Linked DNA regions of Homo sapiens: region 1 is linked to region 2. The links come from fine-mapping of genetic effects on gene expression. Tissue or cell type: whole blood. Region 2 holds a variant in brackets; the other region holds the start of a gene. All regions are shown on one strand. Distances are between the middles of the regions.

Region 1 (10,572 bases), 94 kb after region 2:
CTTATCAAACTGAAACCGCCTTTGCAAAATTATCACTGAGACGGTGAAAGAGTTTTAACTTAACCGACTCCATCTTGCTTCTAACCTCCTTGTTCGTTCAGCATAGGCTGAACTAACTTTGAGAGAAACTTATAGTTTAAAACAAAGATGATAACAGCCCTTTCCCAAAGCACACCTCCTTCTTGCCTGGGGACTAGATTCCCTTTGTAGGACTAACATTAGCTACAAGATTAGAAATTATGGTTTAAGAGTCATGCAACTAGAGGCTTCAAGATTTTCTTCAAATATCTCAGTGCTTGAGATATTTTCCAGACCCTGCAATTGCCGGATCAGCTGGCACCACCCAGATGGATAAACTGGCTAATCTGATCTTGTGGCTCCCACCCAGGAAGTGACTCAGCACAAGAAGACAGCTTCAACTCCCTATGATTTCATTTCCGTCCTGACCAATCAGCACTCCCGGGTCACTGGCTTCCCCCAACCCACCAATTTATCCTTAAAGATTCTGCTCCTGGCTGGGCGTGGTGACTCGCACCTGTAATCCCAGCACTTTTGGAGGTTGAGGTGGGTGGATCACCCGAGGTCAGGAGTTCGAGACCAGCCTGACCAACATAGTGAAACCCCGTCTCTATTAAAAATACAAAATTAGCCGGGCGTGGTGGCACATGCCTGTAATCTCAGCTACTTGGTAGGCTGAGGCAGGAGAATCACTTGAACCCAGGAGGCAGAGGTTGCAGTGAGCCAAGACAGCGCCACTGCACTCCAGCCTGGGTGACAGAGCAAGACTCTGAAAAAAAAACACAAACAAAAAAAAACTCTGCTCCCCAAATGCTTGGGGAGACTGATTTGAGTAATAATAAAACTGTCTCCCGCACAGCTGGCTCTGTGTGAATTACTCTTTCTCTATTGTAATTCCCCCGTCTTGATGAATCAGTTCTTTCTAGGCAGGGGGCAAGGTGAACCCCTTAGGCGGTTACAAATTCAAAGGCCACAGTTCCTTTCAGGTGGCTTCACCTGTGGTCACTCTGGCAAGGTTTTGGTTTTGCCCTCCAGGACCAGAAGAGGTAAGGTCTTCCTGCTATTGTAGCGCTATGGTATTGAACTACCTTTACCCTTGCTCTGCCCTAACTCTGTCCACACCTTTGGGAACAGCTCCTTTATTAACATCTCCTTGCTTCTCCTGTTTGAACTTGCCCAACTCTTAACCTGCTTGGATCCTGAGTCATCCATTGTATGACTCAGACTCCTGAGAATTTGAAAGTCACAGATCTCTAACCTAGAAACAAAGCAAGTGTTTCTAGCCAATGGGAAATTTCAACAATGTATAACAATCCATGAGCATGGGCACTGTTATTTCCAATTTGGAGTGTGATATTATAAAACAAGCTATGAAAAGAAACTAAATAAAAAGACGTGTTATTTTCTCAAAGGACACTTGGAGAGTTAAGAGCAATCCTATTTGAAAATAACCTACACATGGTAGGATAATAAAGTAGGGGCTCACTTGGCTTAGCTCCGTTCTGTTCTTGTGAAAGCACACATTCATATAAATAAGATATACTTGTTTTATATATATTTATTGTATTTTAAAACATGGGTCCACATACAGCTCATATATTACATTATGAATTAACAGCATGATTTAAGAAAAGTAATTTTGTTAATTATTTTTATAAAACAAACCCAGAGGCCGGGTACGGTGGCTCACGCCTGTAATCCCAGCACTTTGGGAGGTCGAGGTAGGTGGATCACAAGGTCAGGAGTTCGACACCAGCCTAGCCAATATGGTGAAACCTCGTCTCTACTAAAAATACAAAAAAAAAAAAATTAGCCTGGCATGGTGGCACATGCCTGTAATCCCAGCTACTTGGGAGGCTGAGGCGGGAGAATTGCTTGAATCCGAGAGGCAGAGGTTGCAGTGAGCCGAGATTGCGCCACTGCACTCCAGCCTGGAGTAAAGTAAAACAAACCCACAGCAACAATCTATGATAACGTTTACTTTGTATGGTAGCTATGGTAGGAAGTGGAGGAGATTCTGAGCTAGAGGAAACTATATTAAAGTGGGCACAGCAAACAGAGAGGAGAAAAGGAAAATATCTTGCCCTTAGCCTAACCCTGCCTACAAATCACTTACCATACACTAGAAAAGACTTTCATTCCCAATAACTTTGCATTCAAAGATAAACCATGAATAGCGGGAACCTCCTAAAAGCCTTGACTAACGGGAAATCCTAAAAGCTTTGCCTCCAGAGATAAGCCACAAAAACAAGAACATCCTGTTTTCCTTACCACAAAACAGGAACATCTTGTTCTTATCCAATTGGAATGAACTGCCATATCTGAGCTATAAATATCTGCCATTTCATCTGAGCTATAAATTCCTCTATTCTATTTAGCGAGCCACTCTCTGAAAGTCTGATTTTCTTGAACTGCAAGTAAAAATGTCTCTCTGTGCTCATATTTGTCTTTGATTTTTATTTTGACATAGGGTTCCTGAACTGATTTTTGGGGGGGGGAATCCTGAAGTTGGACGCACCCAGGGCTGGCTTCATGGGTGGGCAAAATGTGCAGTCACACGGGCCCCACTCTGGGTTTAGTGCTCTGCTATCACCATCTTAAAATTCGTAATTTCTTTGTTTTTTTTGAGGTAGAGTCTCACTCTTGTTGCCCAGGCTGGAGTACAGTGGTGTGATCTCGGCTCAGTGCAACCTCCGCCTCCTGGGTTCAAGCAATTCTCCTGCCTCAGCCTCCTGAGTAGCTGGGATTACAGGCACCTGCCACCACGCCCAGCTAATTTTTTTGTACTTTTAGTAGAGTTTCTCCATATTGCCCAGGCTGGTCTCGAACTCCTAACCTCAGCTGATCCGCCCACCTTGGCCTCCCAAAGTGCTGGGATTACAGGCGTGAGGCATGTGCATTTTAGCTTTCTAGATCAGGTGAGGGCACATGGACAAATGGCTCAAGGGTCAAATCCAGTCCACTGTCTGTTTTTGTATAGCTTGCAACTTAAGGATGGCTTTTACATTTTTCAGTGGCTGAAAAAGATCAAAAGATGAGTATTTCATGACAGTTGAAAATTACATAAAATTCAAACTTCAGTGTTTAGGATAAGGTTTTATTGGAACAGAGACCCACCCATTCATACTGTCTATGGCTAATTTTAAGATACAAGTTGAATAGCTGTGACCAAGCCAGCATGACCCACAAAACCTAAAATATTTCTTGTTTGGCTCTGGGAAGCTAAAAGACAACAAAGAAAGAATTCTCCAAAGATACTGAGTTTCTTTGGGAGTGAACAAAAAGAATTATAATCCAAGATGTACAGCTATGGCAAGCCACGGGTCTGGAGAAGGGAAGAATAGGGGGAAGATTTTACTGGTAAAGGAGGGAAGTTCACATAAACTCTTGGAAACTAAGTTGATTGGTTCCCAAGGCTCAAATCAAGAATTGGAGTCCGTTCATTGGTGGAGGTCCTGCTGCTGGGCCAAACGTCCTTTCGACAGTATCTTATCTGAACTGCTGCAGTTTTAAAGAATATTTAGCAATAAATCTTGTCATAGAAATGTGCGCATATTTGCAAAACAAGCAAGTTGTGCAAAACATTAAATGCATGAAAGATGTGAAGAAATTGTGGGTTTTTTGGTTTATTTTTTAAAGTCCTTGAGGCAGTTCGTTCTTTCTTTTTTTTTTTTTTTGAGACGGAGTCTTGCTCTGTCGCCCAGGCTGGAGTGCAGTGGCACGATCTCGGCTCACTATAACCTCCTCCGAGTTCAAGCGATTCTCCTGCCTCAGCCTCCTCAGTAGCTGGGATTACAGGCGCCCGCCACCACACCCAGTTTTTTTTTTTTTTTTTTGTATTTTTAGTAGAGACGGGAATTTCACCACGTTGGCCAGGCTGGTCTCAAACTCCTGACCTCGTGATCCGCCCGCCTCGGCCTCCCAAAGTACTAGGATTACAGGTGTGAGCCACCGCGTCTGGCCTTGAGACAGTTCTTATCTCAGACATACAAGCATGAGTTTCCTTCCTTTCTGGTCTCTAGGCTCCAATTTGTCTGGGTCTGACAATAGTTACTTCTCCTGGAATCTGCAACTTTCAGAGCACTTTATGGAAAAAGTCGGCCAACCCCTGCCCTACACTCACTCTTGATCACTCTCCAGTGTAGCCATCCCAAACTATTTGCAGACCACCCTTTTCTCTCTGATCTGTATCCCACCCCCATGGGTGCTTCCATAGAACTAACCCCATCTAAGCATTTAACAGTTATTCTAATTGCCCTTTTACTTGTCTGACCCAAGTGTTCGCCACTCAATCCTCAGCACCCAGCACGATCCCTAGCCCTCGTTCAGCGCTTAATAAATCCATGTTGATTCAATGTGTAGCATCCTGAACAGGCAACAGCAGTGGGTTCCAACTTTCAAGGAGCTTAAAAAAGGAACTCAGCATACAAACAACAGACTAATCTACAAGGAAGAATGAGGGGGGTGGAGGGAGCACTAAAAAGCAGCAAGTACTCTGCAGCAGAACCAAAGATAAAATTCCACCTAAAGGTGCCCTTTCTTCAGGATCCTTCCTAATTTGAATACAGGTTCCCTTCTCCTCCATGACGAAATTCTTAGTGAGGTTACTTGTTGGTACGCAGTGTCCTCATCTGTAAAATAAGGCTAAATAATTACGATTTCACCGGATTATAATGAATATGGTTAAGTATTGAACTAAGGCCTAGAAAGCACGTAGCTCAGTGCACGCTTCCTAGAAAGTGCTCAGTAAACTCGGATCCTCTAACACGCTCCGTTTGATGTTAATGGAGTCCGTATCCGAGCGGGTCTCCAGTGTGCATCGCCAAGGGTATGGCCCAGCATCCAACGCATCCTTTTAGTAAGAGTAGCGACTTCTCAGCGCTCCCTTCGCCCCAGGAGAGTTCTCGGCTCGCGGCGTCGCGGCGGGGCTGCGCGCTGGGCTGAACTCCCAAGAAACCTCCTGCAGCTGAACCGGAGCAGACGCCCGCCAGGTGAAAGAACTACAACTCCCGTCACGTTGCATCCGAGTTTAGGGCCTCTTTATAGTTTATCACACCCAGCCTCTTCCGCGCAGCCCTCAGTGGCTCCGCCCCAAAGGGGGCTCTCTTCTTTCCTTGTGGAGTCCGAAGCGTGGCCACGCCCCGGTCACCGGAAAAATCCGTGTGACGTCACAAAAACCTACGCGTCGCGCGGTGGGCGGGAGTTGGCGGACGGTCCCTGGCTGGGTTCTGGAGGCCCTGGGACCGCGGAAGAGGCTTCAGACGCTGCAGCGATGCCTCGCCCACGGCGGGTCAGTCAGCTCCTGGATCTGTGAGTCTACCCTGTCCCGCCTCCCTTCGCGCCGCCCCAGCACCTCCTCCAAACGGCCAGGCCCTGCGCTGCTCTTCCTCCCCGCCCCTTTCCCACCCCCCCCGCCGACCTCTGAAGAGGCCCCGCGTGTGTTTCTGTCCCTGGGTTCCTGATCTGTCGTTTCCTGGCTGAGGACAGTTGTGCAAAGTGGGTCTCTTGGCGGGCTTGCCCCTCCAACACTCCGCTGCGCGATGAGCGTCCATTCCTCCGTCAGCCTTGACAGCTCGGCGCCCCGGCTGTTACTGGCAGTGGCCTCTCTCTTAGCAGCTAAAAGCCTTGGTAGAAAAAAACACAACGCTAGATGAGGTTCTCAAAAGCTTCTAGCAGAATTCCACCCCTGTAACTGGAATAAACATTGACAGACCCTGGGATAAAGGTAACAAAGTGGTTAAGACCACGGATCCCTGGCTGAGATTGCTGGGTTCAGCCCCCGGCTCTGCCATTCACCAGCCACGTGACCATGGACCGGTAACGTAACCTCTCCCTGTGCCTAGGTTCTTTATCTATAAAATTTTTGTGATAATAGCACCCATCACATGGAGTTGTCCTGAGGGATAAATTTAAAACATGTAAAACCCTTATAAGGATGCCCAGCAAATAATAAACACCACTAAGTGTTATTGTTATTATTATTTCCTACCAGAAATTGTACGGAAATGGAAGTTACAAGGGCAATTGCGTCTCTCCAGGAGCTTTCAGTCCGTTAATATTGCCATGTAAAAAATAGACATCTTAAGGATAAGGAGAACAATCTCCTTAATCTACTGAAGGCTTTCTGAAACAATGGCATCTGATATTTTACATTAAACTTGGGAGGCCGAGGTGGGAGAACTGCTTGAGCTCAGGAGTTCGAGACCAGCCTGGGCAACGTGGCGAAACCCCGCCTCTACTAAAGATACAAAAATTATCTGGGCACGGTGGTTCACGCCTGTAATCCCAGCACTTTGGGAGGCCGAGGCACTTGAGATCAGGAGAGTTGGAGACCAGCCTAGCCAGCACGGCAAAACCGCGGCATGTACTAAAAATACAAAAATTAGCCAGGAGTAGTAGTGGCGCCGGTAGTCCCAGCTACTCTGGAGGCTGAGGCAGGAGAATCGCCTCAACCCAGGAGGCAGAGGTTGCAGTGAGCTGAGATCGCGCCACTGCACGCCTAGGCTGCTAGGCGACAGAGCGAGACTGTCTCAAAAAAATAAAATAAATAACTATAATATATGTAGAATAATATCACAAGCGGGAGAGTAACAAACTTTTGAAATTTCTAATAAGGAAAAGAATAGGAGAAAGCTTTGTCAAGGGGGTTATTTTTGAACATTGGTAGTATCTGACGGTTGCAAATGGGAGGAAATGTATCGTAGAGAGTGAAATAAAAAGAGTAAAGGTTTGACAGGCAGGAAAGGTAGAAATATGAGAGAAGACCAGAAAGTAGCGCTCCAATGTGAATGGAAGATACAATATGAATAGCACAGTAGTGAGACATAAAGCCAGGTCATTGGGAATAGAATCTTAGGGACCAGGATGAAGTAAGAGCATTTCCTCTTTCAGTCATGGGGAGCTATCAAAGGTTTTAGAACTGTACTGTGAGCAGAGAGAGATTTGAATTAGGCAGAAGTTGGAAATAGGGAGACACTTAGAAGACTGTTACAAAATCTTAAGAGGTGAAGAGCCCAAACCAGGAGACACATGAAGATGTTCTTTGCAGAATTATTTCTGGTGGCATGGAGCTGGAATGGGAGAGTTACCATGGAATATTATGCAGCTGTTAGAAAAGCAAAGGGTAGGCCAGGCATGGTGGCTCACACCTGTAATCCCAACATTTTGGGACCCTGAGGAGGGTGGATTGCTTGAGGCCAGGAGTTGGAGACCAGTCTAGGCAACATGGCAAAACCATGTCTCTACCAAAAATAAAAAGTTAGCCAATCTCATAACCTGGTCTCAAAATAAATAAATAAATAGATAAATAAATGAAAGAAAAGCAAAGAGTAGATTCATTTGGATAGAATTTTAAAACACAGTGCTTAGTGAAAAAAAGAGGAAACAGACTAACAATGTTAAGAAAAATTCTTCAGAACTTGGGGCTAAGACAGGGATGACTACATGATCTTCATTGTCATGCTAGAGTGTGGTCCCTAGGTAAAGGTCCATATTTGCCCTTAGAACCTAATTTTGTACCCTTCTGGGACAAGGTACAGTCTGAGACTGGCAGTTGGTCAGCAAGCTATTTCTGGTTTGTAACAAAGTAAGAAGCTTGAGCCAGACTAGTAATTAAGTGTGTCACTAAGCACATTATTTAGTCCAGCTGATGAGGCTTTCTCCATGAAGGAAACAGGGCTTGGTTTATGTTCTTGCATAAACTCCTTATCTCCTCACTGACCAGCACTTTAACACTGCTTTAGAGAATCCTTTGGATCTGGGACATGAATAGTTTTGAATAGAGGGACCGAGGAAAGAGAAGAATTAGAAATTACTCTTTTAGTTGGGGGCCGTGGCTCACGCCTGTAACCCCAGCACTTTGGAAGGCTGAGGCAGGTGGATCACCTGAGGTGGGGAGTTCGAGACTAGTCTGACCAACATGGAGAAACCCTGTCTCTACTAAAAATACAAAATTAGCCGGCCGTGGTGGTGCATGCCTGTAATCCCAGCTCCTTGGGAGGCTGAGGTGGGAGAATCGCTTGAACCTGGGAGGCAGAGGTTGCGGTGAGCCGAGCTTGCACCATTGCACTCCAGTTTGGGCAACAAGAGCGAAACTCCGTCCCCCCAAAAAAAAAAAAAAGAAATTACTCTTTTAGTTTTAGCTTCGTTGACAGGTAGAATGGTGATTAGACTATTATGGAGGAAGAAGTGTCTTACGGGGAAAATGAATCAGAATATCCAGTAGAAATATCAAGCAGGCAGTTAGAATATAATTTTGAATCTGAAAGAAAGATCAAGGATTAGGCTGGGTGCAGTGGCTCATGCCTGTAATCCCAACACTTTGGGAGGCCGAGGCAGGTGAATCACTTGAGGTCAGGAGTTCGAGACCAGCCTAGCCAACATGGTGAAACCCTGTCTCTACCAAAAATACAAAAAAAATTAACTGGGCATGGTGGTGCACATGTGTATTCCCAGCTACTTGGGAGGCTGAGACAGGAGAATTGCTTGAACCCAGGAGGCGGAGCTTGGAGTGAGCCAAGATGGTGCTACTGCACTCCAGCCTGGGCAACAGAGTGAGACTCCATCTCTAAATAAATAAATACATAAATACACAAATAAAATGAAGAGAGATCAAGGATTGAAACTAAGATTGGGGGTATAACTTTGTAGATGATAGGAAGCCATGGTTAAGTTTAAAAGAGGGCTATAGAGAGAAAAAAAGAAAGTCAAGGACAAAATTTTATGTAACACTTACATTAGAAGCAGTCCATGTTGCCAAAACTCTTTTATTTGTTAGATCAATTCACCATATGATGATTTGGCCAAATAGTAATAGGTTGTTTCTTTTAAGTATAAAACGTAGAGCAACTATTATTGGTTGGGATATCCACCCGTCTCCCCAATTGTTTTACAGCTTTTAAAGATTATAAGTTTTAGCTGACTTCTTTTCATTTTGTCTTGAGAAATGAGACTGCCTGTGCCAACTGTGGGGCCTGAGAATCAACACCACTTATGTCAACCTAACTTTTTGCTCTAGGAAATTTTTGCAAATCAGTTTATCTAAATAAACAGCTATCAGGACAAACATTTTGATTTTTAGGACAAACATTATGTTTATCTGGACAGATTGCTCATCAAGCCTGGCTTTTTGTGTCCATCCGTTTTAAACTAAGTCACAAACTTTGCCTAATCCTTACCCATTCGCCACTGTGGGGGGAGAAGCACCCACTTAAACTGGTGGCGTTTATATCCCAGAAACTTATGTATACTCTTGCCTAACATTCCTCTATTGAAATGCTACCAAAACCCTGTCAAGATGATCTCCCTTGCTGTAGTAAATGTAATACATGATTTGACAAATTTAATCAATTTGTTTGACCAGCAGGGTTTCTGGATGGGCTTTGTGGCCATTCAATAGTCCTCCCAGAATTTTAAGAACTATTTGATTTGTTTCTGTCCCAACTCCCTGCTATTGCAGCTGGAGGGAACTGGAGCAGAAAGAGGAAACCATTTACTTTGGGAAACACATGGTACAGCCTCTGCACTGCTGAGCTCAGAGAAGAGCATACTAAAGGGCTAAGATGAAAGAGACTGAGAGAAAAAGGTGGCGGTGGGGGGCAGAGAGCCATGTTGTAGGAAAAAGGTAACATATTGAAATATACCTGAAATCTTGCATAAAGCAAAATACAGTAGTCTCTCCTTATGTGCTGTTTTGTTTCGGCAGTTTCAGGTACCTGCAGTCAACCATGGTAAAAAAATATATATATATGTTAAATGGAAAATTCTAGGAAGAAACAATTCATAAATTTTAAATTATGCACCATTTTGAGTAGCATGATGAAATCTCATGCCACCCTGCCCTGTCTGCCCAGGATGTGAATTCTGCCTTCGTTCAGCATATCCATGCTGTCCATTTAGTAGCCTTCTTGGTTATCAGAGCTATTGTCGCAGGGCTACTGCATTCACATAACCCTGATATTACTTAACAATTGCACCAGAGCACAAGAGTACTGATGCTGGCATATTGTTACATGTATTTTTTATTTTTCCACCCAATCCTTGTAGATGTTGTTATAACTGTTCTATTTTATTGTTGTTGTTGTTCATCTCTTACTGTGCCTAATTTATATATTAAACTTTACCACAGGTATGTCTGCATAGTAAATGCAGGGTGTATATATAGGATTTAGGATTCAGTACTATCCATGATTTCAGGTGTCCACAGGGAGTCTTAGAATGTTTTTCCCATGGATAAAGGGGATCTGCTATATAACAGGAGTGATTGTCAGTCACTTCAAATGCTTTACTTTTCTCTAATCCCCTACTCACAGAGGTCATGTGCAAGAGGAACAAGAGCATTTTTATAAAGTTTACACAGACTTACCTTGTTTCCTTGCTTGACTGGTGTGGGTCACTGTAGGGGTACTTGGTGAGCAGTATCCTCAACCAAGTGGTAGTTATCTTTGTTATCTAGGGCAGGAGTTGGTAACCTTTCTGTGAAGGGCCAGAGAGTAATATTTTCAGCTTTGTAGGCTACACACCCTCTGACACAGTTACTCAGCTCTGCCATTGTAG
Region 2 (10,572 bases):
CAATCTGAGTTTACTCCTTATTAAATTTGTTCTCAATTCTTTAGGAAGATTGAATTTTAGTGTATAAATCCTGTTGACAAATGAGGTACTAGAATGATGAGAATTCTCTTTAAGAGGCCATTTCTGAGATAAATCTACATAGCAAGTAGGTCTAGTTGCTCAGTCCTTACACCTCCAAGGGAGCCTGGAATCATGATTGACCCTTGGCAAACCCTCGGAAATGTTCTTAGGATGTTCTTTATGTCACTAATTGATGATTTTGTTGTGTACACTTGGAGCAATGTACCATGCCATGCTGGCTTGCTAATTTGCTTTGCACAAACATTGAGATTGATGATGTACCCCTGGTCTCATTGTTGTGATCCTGAGTTTTGGTTGCTATGGCTAATCGCATAACAGGATATGTCTTTGTGATTGGTCCCTGATAAAAGCCTTAGACTCTGAAACCTGAATGGGCTTCCCTGAGCAGAGACATTTCACATATGTTCATTTCTAGAGAGAAAATACATCCTGTGTGACTTCAGATGAAAAAAGACTTGAAATATATGTTGGATCTCTCTAAATACTGCTACAGTCTCATCAATATACCATAATGTAGTAGTCTCTTGTTGTGTAGTATCACCAGGAGTTCTTTGTCTTATGACCATGCAAATTAAGGAATGTGGATGCAAAGCGTGAGGTTGGAGTGAAAGTTTAATAAATGAAAGAAGAAAGCTATCTATAGTGGAGAGGGGAGCCCAAGTGGGCTGCCGTTTTTACAGTTTAATTTAAAAGGTTTTTGGTTTGTTTGTTTGTTTGTTTGTTTGTTTGTTTTTTGAGATGAAGTCTTGCTCTCGTCCCCCAGGCTAGAGTGCAATGGTGCGATCTTGGCTCACTGCAACCTCCACCTCCCGGATTCAAGCAATTCTCCTGCCTCAGCCTCCCAAGTAGCGGGATTACAGGCACCTGCCACCACACCTGGCTAATTTTTGTATTTTTTAGTAGAGATAGGGTTTCACTTTGTTGGCCAGGCTGGCCTCAAACTCCTGACCTCAGGTGATCCACCCACCTTGGCCTCCCAAAGTGCTGGGATTACAGGCATGAACCACCGCACCCGGCCAGAAGTTTTTTTGTGTGTTTTTTGTTTGTTTGTTTGTTTTGGAGATGGAGTCTTGTTCTGTCACCCAGGCTGGAATGCAGTGGCATGATCTTGGCTCACTGCAACCTCCACCTCCCAGGTTCAAGCAATTCTTCTGTCCCAGCCTCCCGAGTAGCTGGGACTACAGGTGCCTGCCACCATGCCCGGCTAACTTTTGTATTTTTAGTAGAGATGGGGTTTCACCTTGTTGGTCAAGCTGGTCTCAAACTCCTGACCTCAGGTGATCCACCCACCTCGGCCTCCCAAAGTGCTGGGATTACAGGCGTGAGGCACCATGCCCGGCCTGATTTTTTAAAAGTTTTTATAGGAAACTCCTCTCATCTCTTTAGTTGTTGAGTAACTTATCTGTAAAGTCGTCTGCATAACTCCACACTATCTACAGGTGTGAGCCACTGTGCCTGGCCCAGGCTGACTCTTGTTAGGGACTAATGCAACCAATGACTTTAAGTTGGAGCCAGTGCTCACTGACCATTCTGAAAATCCTAGGGCTCGTAAGAATTATGCTAAGTTGGGCCAGTCGCGGTGGCTCACGCCTATAATCTCAGCACTTCGGAAGGCTGTGGCAGGCAGATCACTTGAGGTCAGGAGTTTGAGACCAGCCTGGCCAACATGGTGAGACCCTGTCTCTGCTAAAAATATAAAAATTAGCCGGGTGTGGTGGTGCACACCCATAATCCTAGCTACTAGGGAGGCTGAAGCAGGGGAACTGCTTGAACCCAGGAGGCAGAGGATGCAGTGAGCTGAGATTGTGGCACTGCACTCCAGCCTTGGCAGTAGAGTGACACTACATCTCAGAAAAAAAAAAAAAAAAGAATTATGCTAAATCTACTCTATTGCTCTATAATTGTAACAAAAAAGTCTGAATGACAGCACATCTGTTTACAGCATGATTTACTGAATTACTATTATTATTATTATTTTTTGAGACAGGGTTTCCCTCTGTCATTCAGGCTGTAGTGCAGTGGTCTGATCTTGGCTTACTGCAACCTCTACCTACTGGGCTCAAGTGAGCCTCCCACCTCAGCCACCTGAGTAGCTGGGACTACAGGTGCATACCACCATGCCTGGCTAATTTTTTTATATTTTTGGTAGAGTCAGGGTTTTGCCATGTTGCCCAGGCTGGTCTTGAACTCCTGAGCTCAACAAATCCACCTGCCTCAGCCTCCTAAGTGCTGGGATTACAGGCATGAACCACCACACCTGGCCAATTGACCGAATATTTTAATCCCACTGTTGAGACCTACTGCTCCAAAAAAAAACCTTCCTTTCAAAATATTACTACTCATGGACAATGTTCCTGGTCACCCAAGAGCTCTGATGGAGATGTACAAGAAGGTTAATGTTGTTTTCATGCATCCTAACATATCCACTTAGCAGCCCATGAATTAAGGGGCAATTCTGACTTTCAAGCCTTCTTATCTAAGAGATACATTTTGTAAGACGATGGCTGCTACAGATAGTGATTCCTCTGATGAATCTGGGCAAAGTGGATTGAAAACCTTTTGGAAAGGATTCACCATTTTAGGTGCCATTTGATTCATGTAAGTAGGTCAAAATATGAACATGAACTGGAGTTTGGAAGAAATTGATTTTAATCTTCATGGATGACTTTGAAGAGTTCAAGAGTTCAGTAGAAGAAGTAACTGAAGATGTAGTGGAAATAGCAAGAGAACTGGAATTATAAGTGGGGCCTAAAGATGTGACTGAATTGCTTCAATCACATGCTAAAAAAAGCTTTAATGGATGAAGAGTTGCTTTTTATGGATGAGCAAAGAAAGTGGTTTCTTGAGAGGGAATATATTCCTGGTGAAGATGCTGTGGATATTGTTGAAATGATAATGAAGGATTTAGAATATTCCATAAATTTAGTTGATAAAGCACCTTTAAAAGGATTTATTACAATTTTGAAAGAAGTTCTACTATGAGTAAAATGCTATCAAACAGCATAACATCCTAGAGAAATCTTTTGTGAAAGGAAGAGTCCACCACAGCCAGCATTATACTGATTGGGGAAAAGTTGAAAGCATTCTCTCTGAGAACTGGAACAAGACAAGGATGCCCACTTTTATTACTTCTATTCAACATAGTACTGGAAGTCCTAGCCAGAGCAATCAGACAAGAAAAAGAAACAAAGGGCATCCAAATCAATAAAGTGGAAGTCAAACTGTCCCTGTTCAGTAAAGTTTCAGAATACAAAATCACTGTACGCAAATCCGTAGCACTGCTATACACCAACAGCAACCAAGCTGAGAATCAAATCAAGAACTCAATCTCTTTTGCAACATTGCTGGAAAAAACAAAACAAAACAACAAAAGCAAAACAAAACAAAACAAAACCAAAAAAGCCACAAAATACTTAAGAATATACTTACCAAAGCAGGTGAAAGGCCTCTGCAAGGAATATGCTGAAAGAAATAACATGCTGAAAGAAATAACATAAACAAAACATGCTGAAAGAAATAATAGATGACACAAACAAATGGAAACATATCCCATGCTCATGGATCAGTAGAATCAATATTGCGAAAATGAACATACTGCCAAAAGCAATCTGCAGATTCAATGCAATTTCCATCAAAATACCATCATCATTCTTCACAGAACTAGAAAAAAAGCTGGGCGCGGTGGCTCACGCCTGTAATCCCAGCACTTTGGGAGGCAGAGGTGGGCAGATCATGAGGTCAGGAGATCGAGACCATCCTGGCTAACACAGTGAAACCCCGCCTCTACTAAAAATACAAAAAATTAGCCGGGCGTGGTGGCGGGCGCCTGTAGTCCCAGCTACTTGGGAGGCTGAGGCAGGAGAATGGCGTGAACCCGGGAGGCGGAGCTTGCAGTGAGCCGAGATTGCGCCACTGCACTCCAGCCTGGGTAACAGAGCGAGACTCCGTCTCAAAAAAAGAAAGAACTAGAAAAAAAATTCTAAAATTCATATGGAACCGAAAAAGAGCCCGCATAGCCAAAGCAATACTACATAAAAGGAATAAATCTGGAGGCATCACATTACCCAACTTCAAGCTATACTCCAAGCCTGTGGTTACCAAAACAGCATGGTACTGGTATGAAGAAGATAGGAACATAGGACCAGTGGAACAGAATAGAGAACCCAGACATAAAGCCAAATACTTACAGCTATTTGATCTTCGACAAAGCAAACAAAAACATAAAGTGGGGAATGGACATCCTATTCAACAAATGGTGCTGGGATAATTGGCAAGCCACATGTAGAAGAATGAAACTGGATCCTCATCTCTCATCTTACACAAAAATCAACTTAAGATGGATCACAGACTTAAATCTAACTCCCGAAACCATAAAAATGCCCTAGAAGATAATATCAGAAAAACTCTTGTAGACATTGGTTTAGGCAAAGAGTTCATGACCAAGAACCCAAAAGCAAATGCAACAAAAACAAAAATAATTAGATGGGACCTAATTAAACAAAAAAGCTCTGCACAGCAAAAGAAAGAATTAACAGAGTAAACAGACAACCCACAGAGTGGGAGAAATTATTCACAAACTATGCATCCAACAAAGGACTAGTATTGAGAATCTACAAGTAACTCAAATAAATCAGCAAGAAAAAACCAAATAACACCATCCAAAAGAGGGAAAAAGACATGAACAGACAATTCTCAAAAGAAATATACAAATGGCCAACAAACATATGAAAAAATGCTCAACATCACTAATTATCAGGGAAATGCAAATTAAAACCACAATGAGATACCAGCTTACTCCTGCAAGAATGCCCATAATTAAAAAATCAAAAACTAATAGATGTTGGCATGGATGTGGTGAAAAGGGAACACTTCTACACTGCTGATGGGAGTGTAAAGTAAATGCAAACGCATTTACCACTACAGAAAACAGTGTAGAGATTACTTAAAGAACTAAAAATAGAACTACCATTCCATCTAGCAATCCCACTACTGGGTATCTACCCAAAGGAAAAGAAGTCATTATATGAAAAAGACACCTGCATGTGCATGGTTACAGCAGCACAATTCACAATCGCAAAGATATGGAACCAACCTAAGTGCCCATCAATCAATGACTGGATAAAGAAAATGTGGTATATATGCACCATGGAATACTACTC[A/G]ACCATAAAAGGGAACGAAATAATGGCATTTGCAGCAACTTGGATGGAGCGGGAGGCCATTATTCTAAGTGAAGTAATTTAGGAATGGAAAACGAAATATTGTATGTTCTCACTTATAAATGGGAGCTAAGCTATGAGGATGCAAAAGCATAAGAATGATACAATAGACTTTGGACTTTGGAGACTCAGGAAAAGGTGGGAGGGGAGTGAGGGATAAAAGACTATAGATCGGGCACCGTGTACAATGCTCAAGTGACAGTTGCACCAAAATCTCAGAAATCACCACTAAAGAAAGTATCCATGTAAGCAAAACCACCTGTTCCCCAAGAACTATTGAAATAAAATAAAATATTTTAAAAATGAGTCCATCAATGCAGCAAACTTTTTTGTTGTCTGATTTGAAGAAGTTGCCACATCCACTCCAGCCTTCAGCAACCACCACTCAGATCAGTCAGAAGTCATCCATGTTGAGGCAAGACTCTCCACCAGCTTTTTGCTGATGACACAAGATGACAACTCAATTAAGGCTCAGATGATTGTTAGCATTTTTTCAGCAATAAAGTATTTTATAATTAGTGTATTTATGTTGCACATTTATGACATAATGTTATTGCATACCTAGTAGGTTACAGTATAGTGTAAGCATAACTTTTACATGCACTGGGAAACCAAAAAATTTGTGTGACTTGCTTTATCACAATATTCACTTTATGGCAGTGGTCTAGAACAAAACCTGATATCACAAAACCTGATATTCCTGATATATGGGCTTATCTCTGAAGTATACCTGTATCTCAGTGAAGATGTTATTATTTATTTATTTATTTGAGACAGAGTCTCACTGTGTCACCCAGGTTGGAATGCAGTGGCACGATCTCCACTTACTGCAACCTCCACCTCCCGGGTTCAAGAGATTCTCCTGCCTCAGCATCCGAAGTAGCTGGGACTACAGGCATGTGCCACCACACCAGGCTAATTTTTTTTGTATTTTTAGTAGAGACAGGGTTTCACCATGTTGGTCAGGCTGGTCTCAAACTTCTGACCTCAAATGATCTGCCCACCTCGGCCTCCCAAAGTGCTGGGGTTACAGGCGTGAGCCACCGCGCCTGGACAAAGATGTTACTTGCTTTTTTTTTGAGACGGAGTTTTGCTCTTGTTGCCCAGGCTAGAGTGCAATGGTGTGATCTCGGCTCACTGCAACCTCCGCTTCCCGGGTTCAAGCGATTCTCCTGCCTCAGCTTCCCCAGTAGCTGGGATTACAGGCACCTGCCACCACGCCCAACTAATTTTTGTATTTTTAGTAGAGACAGGGTTTCACCATGTTGGCCAGGCTGGTCTCAAACTCCTGACTTTAGGCTATCCGCCTGCCTCGGCCTCCCAAAGTGCTGGGATTACAGGCGTGAGCCACCGCGCCCGGCCAAAGATGTTATTTTCTATAAAGGCAACCGTTAGAACCTTCAACTCATTATTTTTAGGCTGACAAAAACATCTGTTATTATTATACCACACTATGTATTGTGAATAGTTTATTTTACAAGCATAATAGAGTATTTTGAAATTACACTCTGCTAGAACCCCTTGCTAGTTGTTAATTTTACCTAGAAAAGACTCACAGATTCTTTGTTAAAATAAGAAATCTAGCAAAGTCAGACTTTTCTCCCTACCACCCCACCCAACCCCATTATACACAAAAGAAAAGAGGAACAGTCCAGATGTGGTGGCTGACACCTGTAATCCCAGTACTTTGTGAGGTGGAGAGTTGGGCAGATCACCTGAGGCCTGGAGTCTGAGATCACCCTGGCCAATATGGTGAATTCTCATCTTTACTAAAAACACAAAAATTAGCCGGGCATGGTGGCCCGTGCCTGTAATCCCAGCTACTTGGGAAGGTGAGGCACAAGAATCGCTTGAACTCAGGAAGTGGAGGTTGCAGCGAACAACCACTGCACTCCATCCTGGGTGACAGAGCAAGATCTGTCTCAAAAAAAAAATAAATAAATAAAATAAAATAAAATATAAAAAAAAGAGATGAGAAACAAATGATCAGATTTGCAGAGTAATCTTTCAAGAATTTATCCTATTTACACATGCAGAAATGTCAATTACAACATTACTATCAGGGCAACAAATTATCAAGTAAAGCTACCAATCAGAATTATAATCTATGAGAAAGGAGTTCACTCAGCTTATTTCCAGGAGTACCTGGAGTCACGGTACCAACCCTTAGCCAACCACTTGGGGCTAAGTCCTTGGAGTTAACATAGTCACCAATGAAGTTGTTTTGTGCTCCTGAGGCACTGAGGCATGACATGCTCAATTGCCAGCACTGCCTAACACAAATATCAAGATGTGCCATGAGCACCTGCCTCCTGGGTAAAGATCTGCACCATAGATTGTCACGTGGGAGGAATGTGCCTTGTGCAACCAGACTCCTGTAAGAACTCCGGGACCTCAGACCTAAGTGGACTTACGTGGGCAGAGACATCTCATATATGTTCGTATAATTTGTAGTCGTGCCAAAAGCACCTTACTGTGACCAGCATGGAGGGAGAACCTAGAAGTCTGCACCTAATCTTTCGGGTCTTCTTGTAGGCATAACTTTTTTCTGCTGATCCTGTATAATATCCTTTGCTGTAATAGGCTTTTAGCCATGAGAATAACCTGTTACTCAGCCAAATGCGTCCTGACAAATCTCAAAAGTAGTATATTCTCAGGACCCATAAAGCACAAGCATTTTTCCAAAGGTAATTTTCAAGGCCAGGGCAAGTAAGTTTCTAAGTCTTAGTTTTATAAAACTCTTTTTTCAAAGAAAATGACTTACAATAAGAAACCGAAGATTCACACCACTCTCCATATTGCACAAAAGAGAAAAAAGATTGATATTTTTGTCAATATCGACCATTTGACACTTTACAAAATCAGATATTTTGAATATGTGTTATATCTCAGAAAGACATCCTCCTCTCTGTGCTATAGGGGAGAGGAGCATATCCTTTATTTATTTCCAAGACTTCTGTTAATTACAAAGGCTCACATTGATAAGCCAAGCTCTGGATTTTCATTAGTTAGCATTATAAGCAAAAAGCAGGCCTGTGAGATCAATTTTACTGGCATAAATGCAGTAAAGAATGAATAAGATATAATAATAACTGAAATACAGAGCCTATAGCATTATTTTTCCACAATATGTAATCACATATTTATAAATCTGAAAATAAAAGAAATATCATTAGAATGTCACTCTGTACAAATTTATGGCAATATGCACAAAATACACTAAAAGCTGCCTTATTTTTATGCAGTTGCATGCTCACATATATATTTCTGTAACAGACAATTTTACTTTGATGTGACAGGAGATAATCGATCTTGAAGTTAAAGATAATAAATTTGGGTGTGACTAAGGTGTATAAATTTCAGTTGATCTATATAGATTTATAGCAAGATGGTTAAAATGTGAGGTTGCTCATCAGAGGCATAGGGTTATCTTAATTATCTCTGATATGTAAATCATTTACTTTTCACAAAAGGCCCTCTTTCTTGTGTAAACACAAACAACCATAAATTAAAATAAGTAGCAGATGACTAGTATGCTATTTTATTTTGCTTTATGAACAAAAGTAAACCTGCTTTGAAGACACAAATAATCTTTCTTGTAAGTAGGTACGTATCCGGCACCTTATTACATAGAAGAGAGCACCAGCACCAGACCCTGCCAAAATGAAACAAAACAAGAACTGGCAAAATGATTGTTTCTAATATAAGCCAGGAAATTGTTTCACAGGTCAAGAATGAGGAAAACTTTTTTTTTTTTTCCTAAGATCTTACCTCTTATTGTCTTTAGGAGTTCCTGTTTATTATTGAGGTCATGTGTTTTGTTACCAGGTCAACTAGCTTACTCCTGCACTGATGATCCTGGAATGAAAGTTTTTTTTATTGAAAGTCTATTTGCAGCCAGGTGTGGTGGCTCACACCTGTAATCCCAGCACTTTGGGAGGTTGAGGCAAAAGGATCCCTTGAGCCCAGGAGTTTAAGACAAGCCTGGGTTACATAGTGAGACCCCATCTCTACAAAAAATAAAAAATTAGCTGGGCATAGTCTCAGCTACTCAGGAGACTGAGGTGGGAGGATTGCTTGAGCCCTGAAGGTGGAGGCAGCAGTGAGCTGTGATTGTACCACTGCGCTCGAGGCTTGAGGACAGAGCAAAACACTGACTCAAAAAAAAAAAAAAAAAAAAAAGAAAGAAAGTCTACATCCAATAGCCAGAAGTATGTCTCTAAGGTCCTTGACCTTCCAAGTATAATGCAAAACACAGAAGAGATTGTTTTAGAATGATAAATTTGACTACTAAGCAAAAAATTATGCATGGCATAAGTCACAATTAACAAAGCCAAAAGAAAAATGACAAATATTTAATAAGAATATCTGGAAGCACTCAAGATCCATTAAGGCAATTGGAGTGTAATATCAGGCAGAAAGAACTAGAATGTAACTGAACTCAATATATTGATTGGGTTCTAATCCTAAAATACTGATTTTTATACTGTCCAAAGAAAGTTTGCAATCAAAACAAAGGTCAGAAGAGATAAGTAAAGGACAGCCAGAGAGCAAGATTTTGCACTGATTAGCTCTCACTATTCAGAGTCCAGAGAAATTTACTATAGTGGACACAAATACTCTAGTTGTTCCATAGTTATATACTATTGTGGGATAAGAATGGTTTATTTCAGTTTGGATAAAGTATCTCTTAAAACTATATAACTCCTGTTATTCCAGTTTCACTCTCCTTTAAGTAAACTGATTCTGTCAATACTTACCAGTTACTGGACAGGCACAGCAGCTCACACTTGTAATCCCAACACTTTGGGAGGTTGAGGTGGGTGGATCACTTGAGGTCAGGAGTTCGAGACCAGCCTGGCCAACATAGTGAAAACCCGCCTCTACTAAAAATACAAAAATTAGCTGGGTGTGGTGGCGGGCACCTGTAATCCCAGCTATTCGGGAGGCTGAGGCAGGAGAATGGCTTGAGCCCAAGAGGTGAAGGTTGCAGTGAACCACCAAGATCACGCCACTGCACTCCAGCCTGGGTGATGGAGTGAGACTCTGTCTCAAAAAAAAAAAAAAAAAAAAAAAAAAAAAAAAAAAAAAAAAAAAAAGATACTTACCAGTTACCAAAAAGAGAACATGAAAAATATATGTAATTTTCACTATAAATTTTTCTGGTAGATATCCTGGCTTACATAGTTTCTTATGAGTTTGGTTATCATGAATTCTTTGGTTATCCTGGTATTCATGGAATCTCATCAATTCTGGATTCATTCACAATTTTGAA

What was found. PIP is the estimated chance that this variant, and not a neighbour inherited with it, causes the effect.
Region 1: it holds the start of AMN1-AS1, and the variant in region 2 is fine-mapped to the expression of AMN1-AS1 in whole blood (TOPMed, PIP 0.98).

What each region holds. Positions count from the first base shown.
Region 1 is chr12:31,723,727-31,734,298 of GRCh38, reverse strand. It overlaps AMN1-AS1 (AMN1 antisense RNA 1), which reads right to left and starts at 5,034. Exons shown (of 1, transcript NR_198987.1): 1 at 3,095-5,034. It overlaps AMN1 (antagonist of mitotic exit network 1 homolog), which reads left to right and starts at 5,278. Exons shown (of 7, transcript NM_001113402.2): 1 at 5,278-5,328. The coding sequence starts at 5,291. It overlaps LOC105369722 (a long non-coding RNA gene), which reads right to left and starts at 10,510. Exons shown (of 3, transcript XR_931497.3): 1 at 10,382-10,510; 2 at 9,660-9,731; 3 at 5,409-5,642. RefSeq lists enhancers at 1-1,079, 4,770-4,969, 4,365-4,997, 5,010-5,359, a cis regulatory region at 1,113-1,340 and a silencer at 5,410-5,489.
Region 2 is chr12:31,818,082-31,828,653 of GRCh38, reverse strand. No RefSeq gene overlaps it. Among named protein-coding and RNA genes, the nearest start is that of H3-5, 31 kb to the right of the region's middle. The variant A/G (reference allele first, on the strand shown) is at 5,241.